Regions from separate parts of the Homo sapiens genome. Here all the other regions are linked to region 3. Evidence: fine-mapped expression QTL. A gene starts in region 3. Each other region holds a variant in brackets. All regions are shown on one strand. Distances are between the middles of the regions.

Evidence for each region. PIP is the estimated chance that this variant, and not a neighbour inherited with it, causes the effect.
Region 1: its variant is fine-mapped to the expression of PLS3 in pancreas (GTEx, PIP above 0.99).
Region 2: its variant is fine-mapped to the expression of PLS3 in whole blood (TOPMed, PIP above 0.99).

Annotation. Positions count from the first base shown.
Region 1 is chrX:115,582,414-115,592,727 of GRCh38, reverse strand. The region is part of intron 1 of PLS3 (plastin 3); the gene reads right to left. Among named protein-coding and RNA genes, the nearest start is that of PLS3-AS1, 25 kb to the right of the region's middle. The variant A/G (reference allele first, on the strand shown) is at 4,303.
Region 2 is chrX:115,599,042-115,609,355 of GRCh38, reverse strand. The region is part of intron 1 of PLS3 (plastin 3); the gene reads right to left. Among named protein-coding and RNA genes, the nearest start is that of PLS3-AS1, 41 kb to the right of the region's middle. The variant G/A (reference allele first, on the strand shown) is at 5,625.
Region 3 is chrX:115,556,129-115,566,442 of GRCh38, reverse strand. It overlaps PLS3 (plastin 3), which reads right to left and starts at 5,269. Exons shown (of 16, transcript NM_005032.7): 1 at 5,183-5,269. PLS3-AS1 (PLS3 antisense RNA 1) reads left to right here and starts at 3,712. Exons shown (of 3, transcript NR_110384.1): 1 at 3,712-3,817; 2 at 3,913-4,039. RefSeq lists enhancers at 1-349, 3,720-4,495.

The DNA of each region.
Region 1 (10,314 bases), 26 kb before region 3:
GTGTCATAAATTTAGATCATAGTCTGGCGCATGGTAAGTACTAGATACGTGATAACTGCTCTCATTATTGAAATTTGCCTTTAACTGGTCTAGCAATCTAATCAGTGAATTCCTAAATCAAGCAAGTGGTTAGTTGTGAGTGCCTTTTATGAGAGAGAACAATCAGTTGGAGCACTGGGCTAGGCTGAAGAGGCCGTTTCTGTGCTGACATAGGGCAAGTTCATAATTTGAAGGAAATGCAGCACAATGAAAGCATCAGGGTCTTAGGAGTCTGACAGACCTGTAAGTCTGTGTGACCCTGAACAAATTACTTAGCTTCTCTGAGCCCTGGGTTCATATCTATAACAATGGAGCTATTCCACATATTTCACAAGGTCCACGGGATGACCCAATGGGAAGATATAAATATGTAAGAGTGTCTGGGTCCAGCAAGGTACTCAGTAAGTGGCAGATATTATTTTCTTGTGTCTGGGATAAAGCATGCATAATGCCATCTGCTGCTGTAATCTACCTCATGAGAATGAAAGAAAGTGAGACAATAGATACTCTAGTCCTTCATAAATAATACACAACAAAGTATTTTATGATAGCATACCGAACTCTCAGCATAAGGAGGTGACTCACAGTGTGGGCACCTGTGAAAAGGAGCCCTCACCGGATAGTCCCCATTATGAGGCAGTGTTCTCCTGTCCTCGTCACTAACCACCATCAGCAGACACTGGGTTACATTTTGTCTCCTTCATGGAAGTGCTTTAATTTATTTCACCAATCACAAAACCTTCGTGAAATATCAAAAGGCAACACAATGCAGAAGAGAAGGAATACAATGGCAGGAGTCATAGGACATGTTTTTCCGTCTGTCTTTGTTGCTGACTCACTATGTGAATGAAATGAAGCTTCTTCAACTTTTCTGAGTACCAAATTCTCCATTTCTAAAACAAGCATAGAACTATCTGCCTGTGGCCTGTCAGGGAATAGTAGGTAACTACCAAGCATTTTGAGCTAATTTGAAGAGTATGTGTTATCATGCATTTTTCAGACAGAGAAAACCAGGGCATAGGAAACTGCCTCAGGTAAGAAGACAGTATCAGTTTAGACCAGAAATGTTGGTTTTTCCCCAGCCTTACCTTTTCTTCAGCCACACCTGTTGCCTCAAACCACTGAGACGGGTCTGTCCCAAATGCTACGTAACCACCCTTTTCAGATATGTAGCAGTATCATTGAGGAAATTAATGTTTTAAATATGTAATTCTTCATTTTAGAAGACAGCTTTCTCTCGTTTCAAGTTTTACAGGTCGTTATAACAGTACTACTTAAAAACTGTTTTTCTGACTTTTCCTTTCCTGGTCATCTGGAATATACATGCTCTCCAGCTTTCCAAACTCCAAGGCTAATCTTCGATCAGCATGATCTGTCAACACCGAGTTACTAATTCTAAAGTCACTTCACCTTAATACAATAGCATATATTTCTACTGCAAAGCATTGTAGTTAAAGTTCTAGGAATAGACATGCCCTTCAAAAGGGCACATCTTCTACTTAGTAAATGCTAGGTAGGACATAAAGACAGTTTTGGTTTGTTTTTTTTTTGAGACGGAGTCTCGCTCTGTCACCCAGGCTGGAGTGTAGTGGCGGGATCGTGGCTCACTGCAAGCTCCACCTCCCGGGTTCATGCCATTCTCCTGCCTCAGCCTCCTGAGTAGCTGGGACTACAAGCACCCGCCACCACGCCCGGCTAATTTTTTTGTATTTTTAGTAGAGACGGGATTTCACCGTGTTAACCAGGATGGTCTCGATCTCCTGACCTTGGGATCTGCCCGCCTCAGCCTCCCAAAGTGCTGGGATTACAAGGCGCGAGCCACCGCGCCCGGCCAGTTTTTTGTTTCTTTTATTTATTATTATTATTTTTGAGACGGAGTCTCGCTCTGTCGCCCAGGTTGGAGTGCAGTGGTTCGATCTCAGCTCACTGCAACCTCCGCCTCCCGGGTTCCAGCTATTCTCTGGCCTCAGCCTCCCGAGTAGCTGGGATTACAGGCACCTGCCACCATGCCCGGCTAATTTTTGTATTTTTAGTAGAGACGGGTTTTCACCATGTTGGCCAGGCTGGTCTAGAACTCCTGACCTCAGGTGATCCACCCACCTTGGCCTCCCAAAGTGCTGGGATTACAGGTGTGAGCAACTGTGCCCGGGCTAAAAGACAGTTCTACCACATCAGTAATTTAACCAGTTTTAGCATGTAAACTAAACTTCTATCTCACTCACCATCCGAGGTGTGTGTGGGTGTGTGCGTGACGGGGGCGGTGGGGAGCGTGTCTGTGTATGTGCATGTGTGTGAACAGGATCTCGGTTTTTACTATGGGTAATGAACACTGGTTTGGGAATGCAAGACGGTGGCAAGGGTTCTGCAATAAATTCTACATTTTCATCAGCAGGCCACAGAATGAAAACAGCTTTTAAATTGCATCCCAAATTCATCAAAATGAATGCTAAGGAAAGCCGACGGAAACCAAATTCTCACTGTCACTCTCTCTAGATGTTACAAACAGAAACCATACAGTTAAGAGTTCAGGCCGGGCTGGGCGCGGTGGCTCAGGCCTGTAATCCCAGCACTTTGCGAGGCTGAGGTGGGCGGATCACCTGAGGTCAGGAGTTCCAGACAAGCCTGGCCAACGTGGTGAAACCCCGTCTCTACCAAAAATTCAAAAAAGCCAGATTGGTGTTGTGCCCTTGTAGTCCCAGCTACTTGGGAGGCTGAGGCAGGAGAACAGCTTGAACCCCAGAAGTGGAGGTTGCAGTGAGCAGAGATTGCACCACTGCACTCCAGCCTGGGCCACAGAGACTCCATCTCAAAATACAAACACAAAGTTAAGAGTTCACACACATGCACTTGTGGACACACTCCCACCCCAGGGTGGAAAAAAGAGGTACAACCCGAAAAGTTATGGGAGTTTCACATAAGTATCAGTGGAATATGTAGTTGTAACACAAAAGCTAGGCATAGTATTTTTAAAGTCTCTTACAACTTTCATCCAGACGTCATGCTCTCCACCACACCCAGTACTAGGTATACTTTCCATGTGTGACACGTACATTGGAGGCCTCTCCCACTGTGCTTAATGACACACCTCAACAACACTCATCTATTTTCCTTTCATGAAACAGTTTTTTTTCCATCTTCATGACTTATAAAAACAAAGCGAACAAACAAACATAGTGAGTGAAGCATAGAAGCAAAGGGATCTAACATATAAAACAGGCAACAAGTTTACATTCAAGAAACTACTACTGTAATTTTGGGACTATATTGGAAAGTTTAGGAAATTCATACCAGGCACAGCATTAGGTATATAAACTTGTTGCATGGATGTGTCAATTTTAATAATCAAGTCATATATGTAATCATTTTTTTCATATTTGGGGAAAAATAAGTCAGAATATATCTTAATTTCAATATTCTGGCCAGGCGTGGTGGCTGGTGCTTGTAATCCCAGCACCTTGGGAGGCAGAGGTGGGTGGATCACTTTAGCCCGGGAGTTCGAGAGCAGCGTGGGCAACATGGCAAAACCCTGTCTTTACAAAAAAAATACAAAAAAATTAGCTGGGCATGGTGGCTGTCGCCTGTAGTCCCAGCTACTTGGGAGGCTGAGGTAGGAGGATAGCTTGAGCCCAGGAGGTGAGCTGTGATCTTGCCACTGCACGGACAGAGCAAGACTGTCGCAGAAGAAAATATAAAATTCAATATTCCAAGGGCTGTCTCCCTGATAGTATTTATTAGCTCTTTATTTGTGTAACTAAGTAATCAAAATTTTAAAATAAATAAAAGAAAAGGTCAAAATACATCGAACTACACATGGGGCAATGAATGAATTTAAAAGACATACATGTTCAGTTCGTAGCTAATAAAAACATACAAAGGAATAACTCACATGCTCTACAATTTTCTATCCTGAGGGTCTCTCTCTCACTCAAAAAAAGAAAAGAAAGGAGAGGGGAATAGGAGAAAAGTGGAGGGGTGGGGCAAAGGGATAAGGAGGGAAACAACAACAAAAAACCCAACTCAGCAGTTCCTAAACTTTTTGGCCTCAGGATCTGAGGATCCCAAAGAGTTTGGTGACACATGGGTTAGATCTATCAGTGTATTTGTCACATCAAAAATTGCGACTACGAAACTTTTAAGATATTTATTTGTTTAAAAATAAGAATAAGCCCATTACATGTTAACATAAGCTTTTTAATGAAAAATAACTATATTTTCAAAAAAAGTGTAGTGACAAGGGTGGCATTGTTTACATTGTTGCAAATC[A/G]CTTTAATGTTTAACCTAGAACAAGAAAGCTGGGTTTTCATATCTGCTTCTGCATTCAATCTTTTGCAATACCGGTTTTGGTTCCAGTGCATGAAGAACATCTGGCCTCCTACAGATAAACTGTTGTAAAAAGAAAGAAATACTTTAAGAGGCTTTCCAGATACTTACAGATATTCTTCAATACTACACCAAAACTCGAGAGAAGTGGTAGTTTTTCAAAGGTTGGTTGCAATGTAGAGTCTGATACAATATCAATGATTTTTTCAAAATCTATTTGTCTGTCTTGCACTTAGAATGGGCCTTTTACCCATGCTTGATTTTGTAACATCATACATTAGTTATTTGGAAAAATATTGTTTCAGTAAGTTATGTGGGTCTTCCAAATGCTGATACATTTCATTATACAAAATCTAACACATTATTTTCATTAATTATACTGTCGATTTCACTAGAAAAGCCTAAGTATTGATCGGATAAAATGGTGACCAATGCAAGTTCTCAAAAATTTGAATTTTGCTTGAAAGCTCTAATTTTAGCATTGGCAACAAATACTCTTAGTTGTTTCCCTTGCAGTGAGAGGCACACTTGGTTCATTTTTTAAAAATAAAGTATCTGTTAGATACTCGGGTCTGAATAATCAGTTAATTCAATCTTTCAAAGTAAAACTGGTTGTCTTTTTTTTTTTTTTTTTGAGACGGAGTCTCGCTCTGTCGCCCAGGCTGGAGTGCAGTGGCGCGATCTCGGCTCACTGCAAGCTCCGCCTCCCTAGTTCACGCCATTCTCCTGCCTCAGCCTCCCAAGTAGCTGGGACTACAGGTGCCCGCCACCACGCCCAGCTAATTTTTTGTATTTTTAGTGGAGACGGGGTTTCACCGTGTTAGCCAGGATGGTCTCGATCTCCTGACCTCGTGATCTGCCCGCCTCGGCCTCCCAAAGTGCTGGGATTACAGGCGTGAGCCACCGCGCCCGGCCTGGTTTTCTATTTTTAAAAAGGCAGCTAGTTTAGCTCACAACTCAAACAGCTGCGCAAGTGCTTTCCCTCAAGACGATCGTCATATATCCATATGCAGCAGAAATACTTTATGGGTATGTCTTATCTCATCACACACAATATTTAAAAAGATGCATACCTAAGAATTGAGATTTAATACAATTATTTTTTCCTGCTTCATCAAGTACATTTGTAAATGAAATGCATGTTGTAAGATTTTTTTCTAAAGGTGATGGTATGGTGCTGAGGAATACAGTGGCTATCACTACAGTGTGGGGCCACTATCTTGATTCAGCAGCTTTACCCACTACTGCTTTTGCATCATCAGTGCAAATGTTAACACAGTGAAAAAACAAATAACAATTTAGTTTTATCATGAAAGTAATTTTAACCCCCATGAGCCCATGTGCCACACTTTTTGAAAACTGGTGCTTTATTCAGTAATATTTATGAAGGAGCCATCTAATTTTAGAGACAGCAAACCTATAAAGTATGCAGGTTTTAACAAGAATTTTCAAACTGAAAATAAAATTAACAAAATTACATATCTAGGTTTTAACCTGAGTTCTGTACTTTTGAACTGTGAAAAGAAAAAACATCTCTTTAATATCAATTCAGGCAAGACAAAAATCTACAGCTTATCTACTTCAAAGCACATTTTGCTGAATCAGGTTCATGTCTAAAAGGCAAGACTTTATCATGACAGTCATGACATAACATGTACAATGTTGTTTAGAAACTTTTTTTTTTTTTTTTTGAGACGGAGTCTCACTCCATCCTCCAGGCTGGAGTGCGTGGCACAATCTTGGCTCACTGCAACCTCCCCCTCCCGAGTTCAAGCGATTCTCCTGCCTCAGCCTCCCAAGTATCTGGGACTACAGGCACCTGCCACCACACATGGCTATTTTTTTTTTTTTTTTGTATTTTTAGTAGAGACCGGGTTTCACTATGTTGGCCAGGCTAGTCTCGAACTCCTGGCCTCATGACCTGTCCGCCTCAGCCTCCCAAAGTGCTGGCATTATAGGTGTGAGCCACAGCGCCCGGCCTGTTTAGAAACTTTTAATAAAATTTTTTAAAAGATTAAGAAAGGAAATATATGTTACAAAATGAGTTAACATCCTACTCATACACAGCAAATTAGATTATTCTTGGCCGGGCGCAGTGGCTCACGCCTGTAATCTCAGCACTTTGGGAGGCCGAGGCAGGTGGATCACCTGAGGTCTGGAGTTCGAGACTAGCCTGACCAACATGGAGAAACCCCGTCTCCGGTAAAAATACAAAATTAGCCGGGTGTGGTGGCACAGGCCTGTAATCCCAGCTATTCGGAGGCTGAGGCAGGAGAATGGCTTGAACCCGGGAGGCGGAGGTTGCTGTGAGCCGAGATCACACCATTGCACCTCAGCCTGGGCAACAAGAGCAAAACTCCGTCAAAAAAAAAAAAATTAGATTTTTCTTCTGATAAGCGGTTAAGAATTTCTTTCTCTTGCATAAAGTAGCACAGAAAGGGTTTAAAAGTAAAACTCCATATGAAATGCAAACACTACTATCTTAAAATATTAAAAACTAAGAAGTATACTATAGTATTTATCGGTAAAACAATATGCGGATTATTTTAAAGCAAATCTCAAAAAAGGGGAGAGCAAAGATGAAATAAGAACATGAAATACTGGTAATTGTTAAAGCTGGGGGTTTTTAATGCTATTTTACATTATGTATTTGAATAATTCCATAAAAATAAGTTTTTAGACCGGGTGCAGTGGCTCACACCTGTAATCCCAGCGCTTTGGGAGGCTGAGGAGGGCAAATCACGAGGTCAGGAGTTTGAGATCAGCCTGGCCAACATGGTGAAATCCCGTCTCTACTAAAAATACAAAAAATTAGCTGGGCGTGGTGGCGGGTGCCTGTAATCCCAGCTACTTAGGAGCCTGAGGCAGGAGAAAATCTTGAACCCAGGAGGCGGAGCTTGCAGTGAGCTGAGATTGCACCACTGCACTCCAGCCCAGGCCACAGTGCAAGACTCTGTCTCAAAAAACAAACAAACAAAAAAAAAGACTTTTTAAAATTTCTGCCTACTTATATAAAGGACTTGGGATTTTGGAGAGCAAAATTAAATTTCATGGCTCATATTTGTTCAATAGATAAATACCGATTAAGCATATATTCTGTAAAAGGCACTATACTAGTTGGCATCAGGAAATATGAGGATTTCTGCAACATGCTTTTCATATCCTCAAGGGGCTCAGAGTGGCTGTGTCTATATATATAATCAATTCCCTAAAATGGGTATAATGCTTCCACTATGACCTTTCTAAGCGGTATTTCTTTATGTCATTACCAAGTACAACTTGATCCAATTGAATTGGAAGTCACTATAATGCAATTTTAAGAAAAAAAGAAAGGGAAATGGCGTATGAAAGAAAATACAAAAAGGAAACAAAAAATAAGAAATGAGACTTTCCCTGGTTTCCCTCTATAAAAGGAAACTAACAAGAGATGTGAGCAAATATGGGCATGACCACATCATTTTTCCACCACAACCCATCATCTTATTTCACTTCAGGACAGGAACCATCATGTCATCTCCTTTGAGTCAGCTCTTGTACTACTCACATAGGCAAAAATAACTGAGCAATACATTCATTTTCCACAGGGAGCATTAAATACATTTAAGTATTCTATAATTTTTCAAATGACAGAAGATAGTTTTACAAATGCCACGACTTTACATTAAATTCCAGGGCTACTAGGTCCTTTCACCACCTCCCCCAATACAAATTAAGCCCATCCTCAGGAGGAAATCCACAAGTTAAACTAGTAACATTCCTCAAGAGGCCTAAGTATAACACTGATAAATGAAAACTGAAAATGATCATCACAGAATAAAATATTTACTTTACTTATCAGCTTCTAGCTTCTTGAACTAGATTTCAAACAAAATGTCATTTTTTCCCTATTCAAGCTGTAGATAATATGTGCAAAAGTTCTCAAAACTCATTCAGTGAAGATCTTTAAAAGCTGAGTGATAGCATTAAATAATTTTAAATTGCTCTACTGTTTTCGTATTTAATAAGCTCTAAGAGGGCAGTGATTTTTTGTCTGTTTTGTCCAGCAATCTATTTTCAGCTTATAGAACAGTGCCTGGCATACAGTAGGCACTCAACAAATATTTATTAAATGGATGTATGTGGAAGACATAGCATCCTAAAGGAATTAACTCAGTGTCATATATTATAGTGGTTTATTTCATAGTCAAGAATAAACTTTCAGCATTTGTCTTTTTAATGCAAAGCAAATAAATAAGGATAAAAGGCATCTACTCTTGTTCCATTGGCTAACTCTGTAAGATACGATCATTCCTGAAAGCTAATCTGGCCAAACACATGGTGGTTACATCTTCTAATAGCACCAAATCCATGCTCAGATTTGGTAATTGAAACGAATTTCTAAATTCTGCACCTTTAGAAAATAAATTCATTTGAGAGAAAATAAGTGGAGTGGAAAGTATAAAGAACTCTCAGTGTATCAAGTTTTTCCTCAAACTTGCCACACACACCCTCCCCCAAAAAAAAAGAAAAACATCTCACTGTCAAGAGTCAAAACATCACTGCTTTAGCTTTCCAAACTTTAAAACAACTACTTTTTGACCTCACAAGGAATAACAAAACCTTCAAAAGAAAGAGCCGCTTTAGCATTTCCTGCCAGCCTGCCCTAGTCTAAGATTAACCTCGTCAGTTTTTAGGAAGACATATAAAATCCCCTTTAAATGACTAATTCAGATGAAGTAGTAACATGAAGCCATAGCTTTTAAGACGCTGGCTTCTACTTGCTACCAGATGTTGCCATCACTTCAAAGCGTTAAATACATCCATGAAGAATTTCAGATATATTTGCATGTGAAATATTTTCTGACTTCCACTATCATTGTGGAGTCACATTCACGGAGAAAAATAGTTGACTCGCTGTTTAATAAAACATCCTTAAGATTCCATTATTCACTTTGAGAGCCACTCTATGTCAGTATAATTCTTCCATGTAATTCCTGCAAGCACATATATACACTTTCAAAACACAATACAAATTAATTCCATTTCATTGGGAGTTTGCCATGAATGGCCTGCTTTATACTTCTTTTGAATTTGGGGTGGGAGGGAACCTTTCACAAAAAGTCCAGCTGAAAAATCCAAATTTTTGCATGTGTATACTTTTGGTATTTCTTTTTCAGACAAGTAGACTGTCCTGAGCTTTACATAATATAGTTTAGAGTTCCTTTGCCAGGTGTAATTCATCTATTCCACTATGCTTTCTGTTTCTAATCACCACTCTTCTCTGATTAATTTCTTTGGCTATGTTGTCATCAAGGTTTTATTAGCTTTTTCTTTTCTTTTCTTTTTTTTAAAGACAGAGTCTCCCTCTGTCACTCAGGCTGAGTGCCGTGGTGCAATCACAGCTTACAGCAGCCTGAACCTCCCCCAGGCTCAGGTGATCCTATCACCTCGGCCTCCCGAGTACCTGGGACCAGATGCATACCACCATGCCTGGCTAATCTTTTTGTGTTTTTAGTAGAGACGGGCTTTCGCCACGTTGCCCAGGCTGATCTCAAACTCCTGTCCTCAAGTGATCCGCCCGCGTCGGCCTCCTAAAGTGTTGGGATTCAGGCGTGAGCTACCACGCTTGGCCTATTAGCTTAATTTTTTAAAAAAATGTTTAAATCTCCAGAGAGAGTTTAATTCAGCAACAATGGTTGCTATTTTCTACACATAATGGTCATTGTTAAGTCTGGCCCAACACAGAATCCTGAACACAATGTAGATTTATCCTTAAGATTGGCTGCAAAATACCATGGTCTCATAAAGTATTAATAGTTATATGCCCTTACCATTCAAATGTATAGGAGCTTCCCTACAAAATTTGTTTATTTTGTTTTATTTCTACTGAGATGCCTCAATTGTATGACTTCGAGGAGGGAATTGAATCCATAAACATAACACTATGCTGGATCAGACTACTACAGACTGGATTGT
Region 2 (10,314 bases), 43 kb before region 3:
ATCCTTGATATTAATATCATAATATTCTTGATTTTACCTCTTGGCACACAATATTTATGATCTGAACCTATATGGAAAAACTTTGCTGATCCTGGCAATAAAGAGAGGAGGTCTGTATCACAGTAGATAATTTCCAAATGCAAACCTATTATAACAATAATTTTGGACAAAGAAAAATGAAAATGATTACATGTTCCTTTCTCCTTTTTTGTTTTGGGTTTTTTCTCTCTTCTGATTTATTTTTTTGGTAGACTTTATTTTTCTTTATTTCTTTCTCTTTTTTTGTAAAGACAGAGTCTTGCCACCTTGCCCAAGCTGGTGTCTAACTCCTGGGATCAAGGGATCCTCCCGCCTCGGTCTCCCAAAATGCTGGGATTACAGGTGTGAGCCACCGTACCCGGCCAATAGACATTATTATTAGAGTAGTTTTAGGTTCACAGCAAAATCAAGCAGAAGTTACAGAGAGTTCCCAAATACAGCCAAGTGTTGCTTAAAGACAGAGATGTGTTCTGAGAAATGCATTGTCAAGTGATTTTGCCATTGTGCAAGCATCAAAGAGTGCACGTACACAAACCTAGATGGTATAGCTTACTACACACCTAGACTATACGGTATGGCCTATTCCTCTTAGGCTACAAATGGCACAGCAGGTTACTGTAGTAAACACTGTAGGCAATTGTAATGCAATGGTATCCGTATATCTAAACATAGAAAAGGTACAGTAAGAATATAGTATTATAATCTTATGCGACTACTATCATACATTCGATCAGTCATTGACCAAAATATCCTGTACCTGAGTGGTACGTTTGTTACAACTGATGAACTTACATCATTACCACCCTAAGACTCTGGTGAACATTAGGGTTCACTCTTAGTGTTGTATAATCTGTGGGTTTGGACAAATGTATAATGACATGTATCCACCATTAACATATTACATAGAGTAGTTCCACTGCCCTAAAGATGTTGCCTTTCCAAAAAAATATACTACGGGTTAAATTTCACAAACTATACAAAATACATTTTGAGATCTTACATTTATCCCTTTTAGACATTTTATTAAAAGGCAACAAATTACTCACCAACTTATGTTTTGGCCAAGAAGTGTAACACTCAGTATAGAGAGGTAGGGGCTGGAAGTGGTAGGGAGGGATTCATAAGAGAGCTGGGCTACATCTATCTTTTTCACAGAATTGTTGCTATTTCTAGAATTTATCACAGCCCCTGGCACATAGTAAGGCACTCAATAAAACAGAACTTTAATAAAATTAATCCCTTCAACAACTATGCACCAAGTATTATTAATACATTATACAAATTCATTTGCATATTAATTTCCTAAACCCTCACAATAGTCCTATGAGCTAAATATTCTAATCTCCTTTTTTTCCTATTAGAAGACCTGGGCTCTCAGGACTGGAATTCACACTCAGGTTTCTCAAATCCTGGAGAAGTTTTAAAATGACCATATGATGCTATTAGCTAAGTTTTTACCATAATGTAACAGACACATACAGTGACTGGTGTTTTAAAAATTAAATAAAACCATCAGCCAGGCGCACTGGCTCACGCCTGTAATCCCAGCACTTTGGGAGGTGGAGGCGGGTGGATTGCTTGAGGTCAGGAGTTCGAGGCCAGTCTCACCAACATGGTGAAACCCTGTCTCTACTAAAAATACAAAAAGTAACCAAGTGTGATGGCGGGTGCCTGTAATCCCGGCTACTCGGGAGGTTGAGTGAGGCAGGAGAATCGCTTGAACCTGGGAGGTAGAGGTTGCAGTGAGCGGAGATCGTACCACTGCACTCCAGCCTGGGTGATAGAGTGAGACTCTGTCTCAAAAAAAAAAAAAAAAATTAAATAACACTAGACTCTTTAAAAAAGATATAAAACAAAGCTGGCCTATTCATAAACTTTTCTTATGTATGATATCAAGATGCCACTAAAGATGGATAACTTCTCAGTAGACAGGTTGGATGAAAATACCTTTCAGAGTAATCTCAGGATCTATGAGGGAAAGAAAGTTCTTCAGTTAGTAATGAAGTTAGGCTTTGTGGGTTTTTTTTTTGTTGTTGTTGTTGTTGTTTGTTTATTGAGACAGGGTCTTACACTGTAGCCCAGACTGGAGTGCAGTGGTGAGATCACGGCTTACTGCGACCTTGACTTCCCAGGCTCCTCCCTCCCAGGTGATTCTCCCTCCTCAGCTTCCCAAGTAGCTCAGACTATAGCCGTGGGACACCATGCCTGGCTAATTTTTGTATTTTTTGTAGAGATGGGGTTTCACCATTTTGCCCTGGCTGATCTTGAATTCCTGGCTTCAAGCAATCCACTCACCTCAGCCTCCCAAAGTGCTGGTATTACAGGTATGAGCCACCACGCCCAGGCCTGAAGTTAGGCATTTTAAAGATTAAGAATAAAAAGAACTGCAATCCCAGCACTGCGGGAGGATTGCTTGAGGCCAAGAGTTCAAGACAAGCCTGGGAAACATAGTGAGACCTCGCCTCCAAAAAAATTTTTTTTTAAAATTCGTAAGTTAAATGCAAACGAATAGTAGTAATTCTAAAAATATTCTGTTTCACTAATATGTTCAACACTCCCCATTACAAAAATACGACATAGGATTTATTCCAATTTTCTTCACCCCTTTTAAGCAATCATGTTTTTAATAAAGAATTATTACACATCTCCATGAATCACACACCAAGGAGAACAATGGCACAGAAAATTTAAAAGTAAGACCATCTCAGAAATCTAAAACATGTGGCCTCTCTCCTTTATCTCTAAAGGTCCTTTCCAGTTTGGGCAGATAGTGAGTCAGTAATAATTTAAAGTATGTGGGTAAAAAACAACTAAAACAAACCTATACAACTGAGCTTACTCTCACACTACCATATCACTTCTATGCAAAAGAAAATTAGGTCTGGGTGCAGTGGCTCATGCCTGTAATCCCAGCACTTTGGGAGGCCAAAGCGGGCAGATCACTTGAGCCCAGGAGTTCGAGACCAGCCTGGCCAACGTGGTGAAACCCTGTCTCTACCAAAAATGCAAAACTTATCCAGGAGTGGTGGTGCGTGCCTGTAATCCCAGCTACTCTGGAGGTTGAAGTGGGAGAATCACTTGAGCCTGAGAGGTCGAGGCTGCAGTGAGCCATCAGTGCATCACTGCAAAAAAAAAAAAAAAAAAAAAAAAAGAAAAGAAAAGAAAAAAGAAAGAAAAAAAAAAGAAATTAGATAAGATGGTTCTGGACATAAACCATTCCTGCCCCCCGCCCCCCTTATCCCTGCTGACCAGTTGGGTTCTGATTAAATCCTGTAGAAATCTCTTTCTCCCCAACCTGCCCCTCCCCGCTACTTCTCAAACAATTTTACCAATATTTTAGACATCTGCTATACACCTAGTTCTTGCCCTCAAGGAATTTACAATCTGCGAAGCAAACATGAATAATTACAATATGACATAAAGTGAATTAGTGACTGCAATAAAAGGTACAAATATCCATTTTTTTAGAAGAAAAAAGTCTCTAGAGACTTTAAGGATTATTAATTTCTTCTCAGAGTGGCCAGAAACGCAGTTCTTTTTTTCTTCCTATAAAATTAGCAAGTGCTGGCTCATGCCTGTAATCCCAGCAATTTGGGAGGTGGAGGTGGGCAGATCGCTTGAGCTCAGGAGTTCGAGACCAGCCTGGGCAACATGGTGAAACCTCGTCTCTACCAAAAATACAAAAAATTAACTGGGCATCGTGGGTGGTGGCACATGCCTGTAGTCTCAGATACTTGGGAAACTGAGGTGGGAGGACCGATTGAGCCCGAGAGGTAGAGGATGCAGTGAGCCATGAGAACGTCACTGCACTCCAGGATGGGTGACAGAGCAAGACCCTGTCTCAATAAAAAAAGTAAAAAATAAAAATGAATTAAGAAATGCTTAGATCTCATAGAAATAATTTTAGGGCACCAGTTTAGTCCAAAAATTAATCCAGTGCATTAAACATATATTTTAAAATTTTCAAGTTTCTTATTTCTAATTGCCTTTTAAAAAGCCTAAAGTGACTTTGCATATGTAACTCAGATTTCCCATCTATCAGAGACATTAAAGAGATACACTTCAATGAGAACAAAAAGAAGGAATTGGAACATGCACATATCCTTAAAACCGTATTTCCAGACAAGGTTGTTTCAGGATAACAGAATAGTTTAATGCAGGACTTTCCAATTTAAATAAACCCATATTCATTTATTGACAGTTATTTGAAAGGAAATAAAGAAATGCTACTCTGAAGTACCTGGGCCAAGACTAAAAAATATAAAGCCAAATTTAAAAAGCTCACAATATATGCTCTAGCTGATACAATTGTACATTTTGCCATTTGAAGCTTAAAATAAAGTTGTTTAATGTAGATTTCTTTATGCCACTATGAATTAAAAAATGGTCTGTCCTTAAGACTACTCATAGGTACTTGATGGTGTCTTTAAGGAAGTCAAGCAGTAAAGTACTATCTTGAGAGAAAACATCACATTAAGTAACTTGGAAATGAGTGAAGATATTAAAAAATAAAGATCTTACAAATTAAAATAACAGAAGCTCTATTCCTCTTCATGGGGCATTCATTGTACTATAGGACTTTTTTCCCTTAAAGTTACTAAAACATCCCGGATGGGTTCACAAAGCAAAACACAAGATTTGACATCAATACTGCCCTGTAGACACTTCATTTAATCTCAAGTACCAGTACACCAAGCTGTTGTACCGCGCCCAAGGTTGTAGTATGTTTTAACAGAAAGATGTTGGACGTGAAATTAGAAGGCATCGATTATTGCTCTGGTTCTGCTATTCCCTAGTAATGTGTCCATGAGCAAGTTTAATTAATCTGTCTCAGCCTAAGTTTCCTCATTTGAAAATAGTGATAATAATACCTACTTCCCCCAGGTCCTAATGAAGATTACAGATGGTATGTATGACAGCATATTGTGAACTATGAAGTATTACATAGCAACTTCAAATCCTTCATGAAAGAAAATAGGGAATAAATGAATGCTTGGGTTAATTGTGAAGAGCTGTATAAATAAATATAAGGCATTAGTTCTACTAATAGCCTTTTACATGGGATAAATGAAAAGTTATCTCATCTCCCTATAATTACTGACTACAGAGTATAATAGGTCTCCCTCATATATAAAAATTACAAGTCTTTAGTCAAAGTAATTTAAGAAGGATGGGCCTAAAGGAAAACCTGTCAGTCACTTTTTATCCATGACTCAATTTGGTTCCTCCGTAAGGCCAGTTTCTAAACACAATTTAAAGAGCAGACAGGAGATATACAAACAAACAACAATTTTTCTTTAAATATTTTAGGATCACTTTTCAAAATAGCTAACAGCTTGTCAATATTGTCACATTCCTCCTAATTTGCAAATTTTTTCATGAGTACTAGAAAAAGGTGAAGAGAAAGTATTACTTGCTGAATAAAAGTTTAACCCCGATTTCACAATATGTGATTGACAGGCAAAAGGAAAAAAACCCTGATTTTCAAATATGTCCTCTTTCCCAGTCTGTCTTCCCACAAAAGTGGACTTTATGTGTTTATTTCTTTTTGAGACAGGGTTACACTCTGTCACCCAGGCAGTGGT[G/A]CAATCTCAGCTCAGTGCAGCCTCAATCTTCTGGGCTCAAACAATCCTCCTGCCTCAGCCTCCTGAGTAGCTGAGAATACAGATGTGTGCCACCAAGCAAAAGCGGACTTTATTTACATGATGAGAGAGAGGGAGAGAGAAAGAGAACTGACATTCAAAGAAATAGAGATATATTTTTCCTCCATTTAAACTCAGCAATTTTAATACTTATCAAAAATAAAACCTCCTGGAGTCTCTACGTTTTTCTGAATTCGCTCATCTGCAAAGCACTTTGATCTGTCCCAAATTCTGTTTCCTCCTTAGCTCCTATGCCTGCCATTTCTGTAAAGGAAAAGGGAAAGCTGTAGAAAAAAGCCAGCCCTTCTTCACTAAACATATAAGACACAGGAAAACAGATTTTCAAATAAGGGAGTAAAACAAAAGCAAACAAAACCTTGTTTGTTTGTTTTTTCATAAAAGGATATAGTGTACAATTGGGTATGAATTCAGGGCGTCACCCATAGAAGAATCTTATGCCTATGAAGTCATCTCTAATTACAGAGTTTGACTAACAATACTGCAATTATGAAACCACTCCACCGGCTCATTTAACTATACATAAACCCTAAACACAGATCTTTGCTGAGAAAGGTATACCTACAACTACCTGAAACTATTATTCAAATTCTGAAAGGTATTTGAAGGGGGACGGGGGTGCCTATTTTATCTCCTAAAGCACTCACTCACTTTAGGAATGCAGCTGACTGAATAATCTACTTATTCATCTGTGTCATTCAGTACCATGAGGTCCAGGAGAAAGAGAATGCACGTGGGAAACTCATCTGGGGGTAACCAACTTTGATCATAAACTTGATTTTTTTTTTTTTTAAATTGAAAGGCAGCCAAAAGATAAAAACAGGATATTCACCACAGGCTTCATCCCAGCCACTAGTATGGTAAATAGAATTGGAAAAGAGAAGCTCATTACTTAAATCAGAGACTGGGCAACACATACTTGAGGTCCTAAAATGAACAAGAAAGCAACAAAGAGGGGACAAAACATGGAAGAAATACATTATTTCACTATAAATGAAAATAAACAAGTTAGCCACCATTATGTGTGAACAGTTCAAGAATGATCAGAAAAGGGGTGTTGTCACCTTCCTCCATCCAAAACAGGCAGTGCTTTTGAACACCCACACTTTGCATACCTACCTTTACCAATAGAAACTGCCACCCTGCCACCTCCCTAGTTAGGTAAGTGAACAGCTCAACACTAGTCTCTAGCTTAGATGGGTGTGCAACACTGTGGGCTAAAACTCACCTATTCATACTATGATTACTAAAGCTCCAGTCTCATGTTTCCTAATGACTTTAGAAGATTCCCAGCTTGAATGTCTACCACACTCACCCACTTATTTATTTATATTAATCAAGCATTAACTTAAGGCTTAGTATGTACCAGGCACTGTGTTGGGTGCTCCAGATAAGAGACAATTAGGATCCAAATCCCCTTCTTTCTGGAAGAGCTTACTGTCTAGTGGGGGAAACAGATGGAAAAACAAAGATACAACATTAGTGCAATCATGCCATCACAGTCATATATACTAAATGGTAGGCGTCAGAAAAGTTTTTTCCGAGGTGAGGCTTGAACTCTGTCTTTGAGTGCAAGTAGGATTTTCTCAGATAGACATCCCCAGTAAGGGCATTCTCAGAGAGACATCACTGGTAAGGGTATTGTGCCTTGTGTTAGTGACAGACACACTCGCAGCAGCAGATCAGGGTCCAATTTAGAAGTGGCCAAGGGAGAAGGAAAGTCAGTGAGGACGATTCAAGTTAGGAAAGTCTAAGTGTCTCCAATCTAACTTACTGCCACATTATTTTCCCTGTTTTTTTCTAACTCTTTCTTCTGCCAAATCAGGTCTCGTTTTCAACTTTCCCACTTTCCTCTGTCTCCAGACTGCAGTTTGACCATAAAAAACAAAGGGAGGATCAGTCAACCACCCATCCCTCTGGATTCTTGCCTTGCAATATCTGAGATTCTTCCGTCATATCTGTTTATCACCTCATGTCTGGCCTACTCCACAAGTTTTTTTTTTATCTTTTTATATATTTTTTTTATTATACTTTAAGTTCTAGGGTACATGTGCACAACGTGCAGGGTTGTTACATATGTATACATGTGTCGTGTTGGTGTGCTGCACCCATTAACTCGTCATCTACATTAGGTATATCTCCTAATGCTATCCCTTCCCCCTCCCCCAACCCCACAAAAGTTTTTTTTTTTTTTTATCAGATCTGCCTGCTGTTCTGTCTTCCTCCAGTGCAATCTTTACACTGCTAATCTCCTGATAATCTCCTGAAGAGCGGATCTTATAAACATTCCATGCAAAAGGAGGTCCCACCTTTTTAGGACAGCATTCAAGGCCCTACACTTTTCTGACTTGACTTCTAGCTTTATGTCTGCCCATCTTTCCAATGCTACTTCCCATTATATGTACTACACCCTTGAACCCAACACTCTCAAGAGACCTTATTCCCCAAACAGGCCATGTATTTTCCCGCTTCTTCCACTCCCTGGAGAGACCACTGGGTCTCTCCAGTGGAATGCTCTTCACCCATCTATCTAGACACTTCAAAAGCCTATTTCAGGAAGTATCTTCAGATTGTCCGCACCCAAGATAAAATTTATCTTCCCAGTACTCTCACAGAACTGTGTTTCTATTACAGCTGGTTCTGGATTCTCCTCTATCAGTACCTTTTGTTTTATTCTGGTCTCTTCTGCTTTTCCTGTCTTCCATTAAGAACTTCCTCTCTCTCTATCTGCGTCTCATGCTTAGAATACTCTCCTCTATTTTTCCTCTCTCTCTATCCAAATTCTACTCACCCTTCAAGCAAGGTTCAGAAGCCTCATCCTCTCCCAAAGCACGTTTCCCAATGACTCCACCTCCCACTGATCTTTCTCTTCAACTCCCAGAGAATTTAGAATCTTGCCACAAAATTTTGAAATTTAATTATAGACTTCTCCCTATAGTTACATAAGTGGATATGAGGACAGTCAGTCTAACTGGGACTTCCATTGTCCTACTTGGTTCAGTTTATCTACCTTCTTTACATAGATTCTTAAACTTGGTCAAAGAGAACAATCTTCTTCAATAAAAGAAAATCCTTCTTTCACGAACAGCACACAAAAACTTGTGTAATTCTTTGCTTTGCAAGTCTCATTTCATGATTGTTTGTTTCTGGAGAACAGTCTAAACTTCACCTTTTACTCTCATTGCTGGATGTTGGTTACACAGGCATGGTTTACAAAATATACCAACTGAGGCTGAGGGTGGTGGCTCATGCCTATAATCCCAGTGCTTTGGGAGGCAGAAGTGGGAGAACTGCTTGAGGCCAGGAGTTTGGGACCAACCTGTACAACATAGCGAGACTCCTTCTCTTAAAAAAAAAAAAAAAATTAAATCAGCCAGCATGGTGGCCTGAGCCTGTAGTCCTAGCTACTAGGAAGGCTGGGGCAGAAGGATCACTGAAGCCCAGGAGTTTGAGGCTGCAGTGAGCTATGGTTGCCTGCCTCTAAAAAAATAAACATAAAAAATGAATAAAATACTCCAACCAACTGCAATGTTTAGAGGGAGTGAAAATTCCCAGTATTCCCAATATCCAGTGATCACAGCAATGAGAATTTGAAAGCTAAGAAGTCTGTAGAGTTCCATAACTTCATTCCCTAAATTGTATTAGGGAATAAACAAGTGCCTGGGATAGTCGTTGACTTTGCCCAGGACACAAAGCTGTGAAGCACAATTAAAAAGATGTATTTCTCAGCCAGGCGCAGTGGCTCATGCCTGTAATCTCAGCACTTTGCGAGGCCGAGGCGGGCAGATCACAAGGTCAGAGATCAAGACCATCCTGGCCAACATGGTGAAGCCCCGTCTCTACTAAAAATACAAAAATTAACAGGGCCTGGCTGCACGTGCCTGTAGTCCCAGCTACTCAAGGGGCTGAGGCAGGAGAATTGCTTGAACCCAGGAGGCGGAGGCTGCAGTGAGCCGAGATTGGACCACTGCACTCCAGCCTGGGCGACACAGCAAGACTCCACCTCAAAATAATAATAATAATAATAATAATGTGTTTCTCCAAGCATAGCTGGAAAAAAAAAAAAAAAGCAAAAGCATGTGTTGGAGGAAAGGTAATTAACTGTTTTTTCCCTCTTTCCTTTTTTTTTTTTTTTTGAGATAGAGTCTTGCTGAGATGTCCAGGCTGCAGTGCAGTGGCATGATCACTGCAGCCTCCAACTCCTGGCCTCAAGTGATCCTCCTGCTTCAGCACCTCCCACCCCCAGTAGCTAGGACTACAAGCATGCACCACCATACTCGGCTAATTTTTAATTTTTATTTCTTTTTTTTTTTTTTTTTTGTAGAGACAGGATCTCACTATGTTGCCAAGCTGGTCTAAAACTCCAGGGCTCAAGTGATCCTCCTGCCTCAGCCTCCCAAAGTGCTGGGATTACAGGCTTGAGCTGCAGTGCCCAGCCAATTAACTACTCTTCCCAGAAAAACAAAAACAAAGAGACTACACATTGCTTTGCAGAGAGAAGGTCCATGCCTAGTATATATAGCCTTTGGAAAATAACTTAAAAAGCTCCTAACAAATATGACCATGATATCGAGAAATAAGAACAGTTGCCAGAAAATGGAGATAGTAACCCCCT
Region 3 (10,314 bases):
GCACCACTCCAGCCTGGGCGACAAAGCAAGACTCCGTCTTTAAAACAAAACAAAACAGAACAAAACAAAAGAAGAAGAAGAAAGTATCACATGTAGGTTTTTATTCTATTGTTATCAACCTAGTCTCTTATTTTTCATTATAATATGTCTGGCTTTATTTTTCCTTTGCTTGTAAAAATTGGATGGGTGCAGAACTTTTACAGACAAAGAAAAATGTGGCAAGACTTACGTGATGAGAACCCTGCCATTTCTGTAAACTCTTGTTAAAGCTTTAGTGTTTCTATGATACACTGCTGCAGTACTTTGAATTTATATAGCACCTGTCTGCTTAAAAGCCAAGGCTTCACGTTTCTCACTTATCCTTTTACCATGCCTGTGAAATATGTAGATTGGAATCACATGGCTTAAAAATAAAGTGAAACCCAGATATGACCACAGAAAATTTCAATGAGTTACTTAAGATCATCTATCTGTCCAGACTGCAAAGGACTAAAAGACCCTAAATTCTATGCTCAATGCTTTTCCAATAAACAACACTACCTCCTTATTATCAAATACGTTTCTAAACTTTTAAGAAAATGTAAGGTTTCTCATATTATAAAATCAGTAGGCTTAATGCACCAAAAATCCCTGTCAAGGAATTAAATAAATGGCACCTCTTTATTTTAAAGAACTAACATTAGTCATGGAATAACCCACTGGTGATCACTTTCCTGAATAGTCATCAATTTGCCAACAAAGTATTTAGCTTGGATCAATGCAATTGCATCAAAGTTTGAAAAGTCAACTGATAAGTGAAATAAGCCAGATTATGAATATTTGAAAAAATAAAACCCAGCAAACCAAAAAGCTTGAGCAATCCTCTCTTTTTATAAACAAAAGCATGAATGGTGTCTGGCACATGTATGTACTCAATTAGTTATTAATATAATAATTTTAAATGACTTTCCGAAGGTCAAATTATGAGTCAATGGCAGAGCACTATCTAGAATCTAATTCCTCTGAGGGCAAGTTCAATGATTTACTTAAGATAATCTATCTGTCCAGACTGCAAAGGACTAAAAGACCCATGCTAAAATAATTAGTATTTTCATTTTTGTATACTAACAATACTTCTTCATCCCTAAAACAGTTTATACTCACTAATATTTATCTTCCAAGTGTCAAGACTAAGGCAAAATTTGGTATTATTAAATTTATCGTGAATCTTCTGAAATTGTCTCACCTCCGTAACTAAAATAAATTGGCCCAAGTATGATCAGATCTTCTAAGACTGACATTTCACGATTAGACTGTTTCCATAACTTTAACCAAAGCGCTCTCATAACTAAAATCAGCTAGTCATGACCACTGGTATATAAAAATCTTCCAACATTGTAATGTATCCAAAAAGCTTTGAAACCTCCAACACACTGAATATACATTATATGGTATATCACTGTCTAAAATAATACAGACTCAAAACATGACCCAGCTGACTTCTTCTAAATGAGTTGTATTATTTTCACAGATCAAAAATTTTGCCTTCTGGATCACTCTTCACCAAAAGAAAAATTGCCATATGACCAAAGACAACATGATTCTAAAAACAGATACCCCATTGTTGTCATGTATTGAGAGATATTCATTTTCAAATTTTATTTTATACCAGCTACTTTCATAATCTGTACCAAACATCAAAAAAGAAACAGTTCAGCTTATACATTCCACATAGATTATGCTAGATCAAACACAACAGCAAACTCATGAATTTATCATATGTGCTAAGAACACTGTCAGTACATTTCATGAAAATCCAAGTAGAAATAATGCCTAAAACAGAATATGGGATAATGGCAAATGGACTTTCTTCTTGTACCCTCTCAGTGTCACCAAAAAGAACCACTTTGGTGCTCAAGCACCATGGCCAAGCTGCCCTTTTATTTTCAGTAACAGAATTCTGTTCTCCTGGGAGAAAAATCTCATTGGGTTTCTGATAGTGCCCTAGATACTGACATTCTGCCAGTATAAACAGTCACAGTCAAAGTCTAATGTGCGTGTAACCACTTGTGGAAGAGGCTTAATCTCACCCAAATTATTACTCACTAGTTATAATTAATCCTTCTACCCAAAATGCCATAAGCCTAGTCATTTTTATCAATTGAATCTAAATGGTTACATCAGACTAGAGACTTTGGACTTCAATGTTGATCGTCTGTATTAAGTCAAGGCAAAGTGTTATTTATTTATTAATAGCTCCCCACCTCAGGTAAAGGGGTTGCTATCTGCTAGATCTAACAGTAAAAATCAAGAATTTGACTCCCAGCCCCCTAATTTCAATAAAAATTTGGGCTCATTAGATCATACCACCAAAAAAAGTCAGCAATATTGGGGGTGGTGTTCAATGAGTAGGCATCCCAAGACAATGAAAAGCTGTGGACTAGAGCCTAGCGATGATTCTGTTTAGACATGATTTCACAATACTTAAAAAAGAACTTATCCCCCTACCACTGTAACCTAGTTGAGTGGTAATAACTTCCTTTTTTTGAGGTTAAACATTTATTATTTCGATCTAAAATTATATTATCACCTCACTTCCACTAGAGGGGTCTATCTACCAGTGTAGTTAACTCTAGTAACTCAGGTGCACCTTAAATCCATTTCCAGCTCATCTGTGCCACAAGGCTAGCCTTGGGGTCAGAACAATGTGCTTTAAGGTTGTTCTAGTTTTCAGGCTCAGAAACGGATGAACAGCAAGAAACTGGAGTGCTCCGGTCATTCAGAGGCTGCTGCAGGAGACAAAGGGTTTTTGGCAAAAGAATACAAAGTCAGAATCTCTTAAATATCTTCTGCCCTAGTTGTTTTCAAGACTGAATATGCATCAACCAGGTCCGTTTTTTCTTTTTTTTTCAGATAAGCAAAGCTTTTAAACTCCTGACCTCAGAGGCTCCTCTGCCTCTCTTCTATACTCTGTAATATATAATCTGAATAGCCAAATTGCCACGTTTTCCCAGAAGCAACCTTAACTTGGGCCACTTGGGCGGGTATAGGTCAATATGGGAAAGTTGTTTCAGTGTCCTCTCATTATTCTACCAAACCACTGACAGGCAAAAACCCAACCAACTCGATGTATCAAATTTACTATCCACTGTTTTTGTGCATGATTTCTAATCCAGTTAATTGAAAACCACAAATAACTGGTGGTTAATTTTAGTCAAGAGGTTATTTACTACCTTTAAGTAGTTGCCTAAAATAGGGAACAGTTCAATTAGAATATAGGCCAGACCAAGGAAGATGAACAGAGCCTTACTTTTTAACACTATCTTGTGGGATTTAGCTTCAAATCTAGTATTCAGGGACAAAATGAGGCATGAGTAATAGGATGACTTCCCTAGAAAATAATTAGTAAGATGTTTTTTAAATTTAGAAAAACCATGAGATTGAAGAAGAGAGGAGATACATGTCCCAGCTCACATATATTTCAATCCCTTATTTTAAAAACAGCTCCTGTTTTTGTTTTGGATAAAAGCTGAGCACCAAATTCCCTTTCTGGTCCCCTCATCCAAAATCCTAGTAGACTTCCTTGATTAGAAGCTAGTTCACACTCCTCCCCACCTTTTTTTTTTTCAAACGTAGAGGTGGTTTTTGGAATATGGGCCTCAACCATTACATTCCAGCTTTAAAGTAAAAAGACGTCATGTGACCATCAGAGACTTGGGGCACGTGATTCCAACTGGTATGTGTGGGGCTCCAGCCACTTAGTTGGAATTCACCATGAACTGCATCTCGAGGATCAAGTTTAGGCTCCCCAGTCCATTGTGACATCCAGCAAAGTGGAGTAAGTGCTTGCCCCTCAATGGTTTTTACTTTTCCCTACATTTTCTACCTACTGTTAGCCAGGCTCCCTTCCCTCCTCCCAATCCCTCTTAACAGGCCGGGCGCCCCCAGCATCCCGTCTGTCTGACGCTAAATGGCGAGGCTCTCCAACCCACTTAGCTCCAAGCTCAACCTTCTGCAAAAGTTCAACCTTCTGCACCACTGGGGATATCGTGCAGCTCAGGTGAGAGGCAAGGAGCATCGCATAAGGCTAGAGTCAGATGCCATTAACCCCCACTCCACCTCCCGGGCTGGGATCATCTTACGTCCCGGAGCCCGGCGGTCGGAACCGCCAGCACACTGGAGCAGCGACGGCGGCAGCAACTTTGGGACTGGCGAGAAGCCAGGGCGGGGGTGGTCGGCGTCCCCGGGCCTCTCATTACAGCGCTTAAGTACTGCGGGTGGAGAAAAGTAAACACAGGCAAGTGCAGCTGTGCGGGGAAAGGGCGGGGGGGTAGACTATTACCTCCCTCCCGTCGCCCCTTTGCCTCTCCCTCTCCAAGAGTCGGGAGAGGTCCGGGACTGCCGCCGCCCCGACCGCGCGCCCGGGGCCGCAAAGTCAAAGGAGCTGAAAAAAGGACAGGGGGTGTGGGGCCAGGGGAGAACGGAAAGGTACTGTCCTACTAGCCCAGAGATGTTCTCCTACTGAAAGGAAAAAAAGTGCTTACTCATAGGGAGACTAGGTGCGTTCGCGACGCCCTCGCTAAGGACAAGGGAGGGAAGCAGGCAGAAGGCAGGCAACCCAAACCTCGTGCCTTCCCTCGGCCACGGCCCCCCCTCTCCAGAGCCCCAGGGTCGGCTTAAGCCAGCCAGGTCACCCGAGGCGGGCGTGTGGGGGCTGGAGGAGTAGCAGGCTGCTGGCTCCGGGATTTCCTGAGTCCGGGCGGGAGGGAAGAGGGGATGGCAGTAGCTGGAGAAGGACGACAGAGGGAAGTTGTGCGCTCCCTTTCCACTTCGGGGCCGCAGCCGCGGAGGGGAATCAGGGCAAGGGCTGGCGTCTAGGACTCCAGCCCAAGACTGGCAACAAGTTAAGAGCAACTAGTAAGAAAACACCACTTAATACAGTGAAGTGCAGAAAACGTGTCTGCGGCGGATGCTAGTAGGGAAACTCCCCGTCACTCACACCCATTTCGGTTGCGACCGATCGCCCGGGCGCCCGAGGGCTCCAACTGAAATTTCTCCGACCTCCCTCTCCCCCAACCCCCGCCCCACGGTGCGCCGCACGTTCCTGCTGAGCTTAACCGAGATGCTCTCCCCGGGACCCACTCCTGCCCACGCCCAGGAAACCCGCTCCCCTAGTGCCCGCCGGCGCCTACAAAGCACTTACGTAAAGTCGCAGAGTCCTGGGTCTGGCCCGACTGCCGCCGACCAACCCACTCAGACAACTTCTGCACCTCGGAATCTTTGCAGCTGTGGCTCTAAAGCCAGCGCTCCCTCCCCTCCTGCCAGCCCCCTCCGCCCCTCGGCCGCCGCCATTGGCTCGGGTGGTGCTAGCAGTCGGCCTGGGAACCAGGAAGGGGATTGGGCCACGAGCCTGTCACATCAACTGGGTGGGGATCCAGGAAAATAGGCACGGGGATGGGCACCCAGGAGGGATAGGGACTGCAACTCTGCTGCAGGGAGAGGAGAATGGTCCCCAGCGCCTGAGTCTCCCCTTCCTACTTGGGCTAAGAGGAAGTTAGAAGTCCAACGTGCCTGGCTCGGAGTACACATTCACACAATCTTGTGGGATTAATAAAAAGATGAAAAAGTTGGGAACAAGAATTTGAATGCCACCTATATAAGTCTATGGGGGAGGGGTACAGTTTCTCCCAGAATCGTGAGAAGAATAACGGCATGTTGGGGAACATTCCTAATTACATCTGCAACAATCAGTCCAGGTGCCAAAGGGTGCAGAGGGAAACATCAGCAATCATTCCTTTCCTTAAGAAGTCAAGGGAGAAGAATATGGGCAGGGCAGGGCCCTCAAGCCTTTGGCCTCATGCCAAGTAAATTGTTAGCCCACATCACCTGTCTGGTATGTTTGTCCATGCGGAGAGGGGTTGAGAGGAGGTGGTTGGAAGTACATTGGTTCCACTCTTTTGACCGGAAATGGGTATCAATTCTCATCAGTCTCCTTTCACCAGAGAAAATTTGGAGACATGTTACTACTCCCCAGACTGCCATTTCTTCTCCTTCTCTGCCCAGGAGATGGCTTCCACGTCATAGCTGACCTCTTTCATTAATACACGTGGAGGTTATCTGCATTCCAAACCTATGGTTCATCGTATATCCAAAATCAACTCAGAGAGCCAGAGTTTGAGGGATTTTGCAGGGTCAGGTCAAGAGACTGACTTGTGGGATAGCTGTAGAAGAAAAAGTCTAAGCCCTTTCCTGTTCCAGTCGTAACCATTTTGTTGAGGAAATGTGTGCTTGGAAAGTTCTGTCAACATTTAAAATTAGTTCAATTAAGTCGCATTTTACATGTACCAGGAAAAAATGCTGAGAGGCTTTAAAATGGAATGTTCTTGAAAAGGAACCCCTATTTCATCTGCCATTATGAATTTCCTTAGAGAAATTAATCCGTAGTGAGTGCCAAGGCTTCTTAAAAGGGAAGAACTTGGGGAGTTCATATATTGCCTAAAGGCTAGACTAGCAGAGGACTTGGCACGAGGAAAAAGCCTTGTTAAATATTAATTAATGATTAACCAACTGGAAGAACTTATGAAAGGCACAGGAAGGTGAAAAAGAAATGGGAGGGCAATCATGCTTTCACAAACATTGAATTTCTGTTATGGGAGATTTTCTACTGGTTCAGGTTTGGGCCAGCACAAAAATACTGATTTCAACATGTTGGCGTTGGATTGAACATGGAGCCAGTGCATTGCCACACACATTTACAGTAAGCTCCCAAATGAGATTTCTAGCATTCAGTAATTGGCCAAAGGTTTGGTGTGACTTCTGGAATTCTTTACAAAAAATTTTTAGATACAGGAAATAGGCTTTTTCAGTTTTCTACCTTTTATGGTGTCTGTCGGTCACCGCTGAAGAGCTTCCACCTGCTCTTAAACTTAAAATTACAGACTGAGCAATAGCATGAAGGGACTCTGTAAGCTAAATTTTCCAGTGCAGATATATTTGTCTCAATTACGTTGTATTCAATTTTAGTTTATTTTTCAAATTCTAGAATTTAAAGTAAAAATATTAAGAATCCTACGTATATGCTATTTACAGTTCCTGTTTTTAATTCAAAAAAGCTTACATTGGTCCGAGTAGGGTAGCTCACGCCTGTAATCCAGCACTTTGGGAGGCTGTGCAGTGGGAGGATTGCATGAGGCCAGGAGTTCAAGACCAGCCTGGACAACATAGCAAGACCTCATCTCTACAAAAAAAATTAATAAAATTTTTTAAAAGCTTAATAGAATCTATACTTTGATAAAAGTCTTCATTCACCACTATCACTGAGGATGTCAGAATTCAGTCAAGAAATGTCATTTTAATTGAAATGCAATAGTCCATAGTTTCAAAGCTGCAGTGTACCTAGCTGATGGCATTAGTTCTCATTGCCTCAGTAACTTTCCAACAGATAAAACACACCCTAAACACAGAAGCACCTATTTGGATGCTAGCTGAGATTCCTGTTTAACAAGCTCCACTATATAATCCAGGTAGAACTCCATTTTAATGAATACTATTAAGATACCCAGCCAGTTTGATGTAACTAAGCTACCTTTGTGTTGCCCAGAATCTAAAGGATCTTTTCAAATTTAGCATTTTGCTGGAAGAAAGGATCCTCAGGCTCAAAGCTCTTAAACAGCATTTCTTTATAATTTTTCATGCCATCAATTTACCTCATAGAGGATCATTCACGAAGTAACCCAAAGTTGATTGTTTTCTTATCTGTATCAAAAAGCCTGCACAGATGTTTGTCAGGGTTCCCTCCACCTGCTTATAGGCTTTAATTTATTTTGACAGTGACTTGCATAGTGCCTGACACATAGGAGTTCAGTAAATGTTTGCTGAACCAATGGTTATTTTATGTCTATTCTTGTTAAACAACAGCAACAAAAAGCTATTAATATATATAGGATTCTCACAGACCTTGTGAATCAGTAACCTAAGAGTTTTTACCTTTCCTTCCATTTCCAATTTTCGATCCTAATGCCTTTGTAATAAATCACTTAAAGTCAATATCACAAAATTTTGAAAACCATTTATTCTTCCTGTCCTCCGCTGATATCATAAGAAGGCGCCAATATCTCTCTTAGGTTTTTTGTCTGTCCAAACTACTTTTCTTTCCTCCTTTTGATACGCACATCCCCCTTTTTCTTGCTCTTTTTCCTATTGTTCTGCCCAACACTCTCCCCAGTCTAGCTCACAATGTATTATGTGTACATAGTCTAAAATTTTCCCTGAAATTTTCCTAGAGTAAGTTGTCAGTTTCCTCTTCTATCCATTTTTAATTCTTTATTCTTAACATGTCATTGCTGGTTTGAACTTTTTTTTTTTTCCTTGAGACAGAGTTTCACTGTTGTCACCTCAGCTGTAGTGCAACGGCACAGTCTCAGCTCATTGCAACCTCTGCCTCCCGGGTTCAAGCGATTCTCCTGCCTCAGCCTCCCAAGTAGCTGGTATTATAGGCACCTGCCACCACACCCGGCCGATTTTTGTTTTTTCAGTAGAGATGGGGTTTCACCATGTTGGCCAGGCTCCTCTCGAACTCCTGACCTCAGGTGATCCACCTGCCTTGGCCTCCCAAAGTGCTGGGATTACAGAGGTGAGCCACCGTGCCTGACCACTGGCTTGAACTTTTTATCCATTTTTTATTTTATTTTATTTTATTTTATTTTATTTTTTCTTCTTTTTCCTCACCCCGTCTGAGATAATTTTTATCATTTTTTTTAAAACCTCCTTTCTGTAGTCTATTAAAAAATGATTTTGCTGCATAAACTTTATATAAGCCAGGAATAACTTAAAGAATCTTGATCAGTTCAATACTAAATCATTTTTCTAACACACCTAATTGTTTTCTCAGTCTCTAAATGTAAAATTGTGTACTAATCTGTTTTAATTAATTGTATTTTATTTTATCAGATTATTTTCAAGGAATTATCCTTTTTTAAATCATCTTTTTAATTCATGGATAATTCTATTCCATGTTGTGATATTTTAGGTTCTTGGATTGATCCTAATCCCTCTTTTTATTCAGTGTGCTGTGAGATGACATTTTTATTAAAATTAAGTATGATTTTAAAGGTTTCTCTCATACTTAAAATATTTGGCATAGAGGAAATCTTGGAAGACCTGGACAATTATTAATTTTTTTTTGATCCATAGGATACAGATTTGAACAGTTATTACCACTGTTTATTAGTGGAGTGTTTTTATGTTTCCAACTCAAAATGTACACATGTATAGGACATGAATATTAATAGTGAATAGGCAATTGTCAAATATTTTTCAAACCTAAAGATTATTATGAATGTGAATGCCTGCTAATGCAGGCCAACTATCTTACACGCACATTCACATAAAGAAATTACTCTGACATGTCCAAGCTTATTTCAGATTTTCACTTGTTAAAAAAAAAATTATCAGTATCTGAGAATAAGAAAATTAAAAAATAAAAAACAAAAAATTAATTGAAGTCTCTTTAATAGGATTAGGACATATTTAATCAGTATGGACTTTATAATATGTAGATTTAACAAAGATCACTATCATCACTGGAAATGCTCAAAATTAAAGTGTCACCCTCCCCTCTCCCGACTTTCTGGGTGTTAAATATCTAATTAATCAATCAGATAACTATTATAAGCAACATAGAAAAAGTATGGTCTCAAAACACAACGAATTAATAGTCTAATATTAATTCAAGATCAAAGTCCACATAACTGTAATAATGAGAAAACAATTCAAGATAGAATATATAAGAAGCACCGTAGGTAGGCTGAAAAGAATGAGAATAATAGGGCTAAAGCAGTTGTAGAAGGCATCCTTTGTGCAATGGAACTTGAGCTAGGCTTGACAAAGATGGGTAAGACTTGATATAGGCAAGTAGAAATGAAAACCATTTTCATTCCTAGGAAGTGATAAAAGAAAAACTTCAGACAAATTAAATTTAACATAGTTTAATTGAGCAATGAACGATGGGGCAGCCACCCCAAACCAGACTAGGTGCAGAGAGACTCTGGTGCTGCCACATGTTCATAGAGAATTTATGGACAGAAAAAGAAAAGTGACATACAGAAAATGGAAGTGGGGTACAGCAATAGCTGGATTGGTTACACCTTGGCATTTGCTTTATTTGAACTCAATTTGAACAATTGGCTGCTTTTATTGGCCAAAACTCAGTAATTTTTACAAGTGAGGGTTACAGTGTGTTTACACATCTGTTTAGGTTACAGTTCACTATGTATGGAAATACTGTTTTTTTTTTTTGGCAGGGTCTCGCTCTGTCACCCAGGTTGGAGTGCAGTG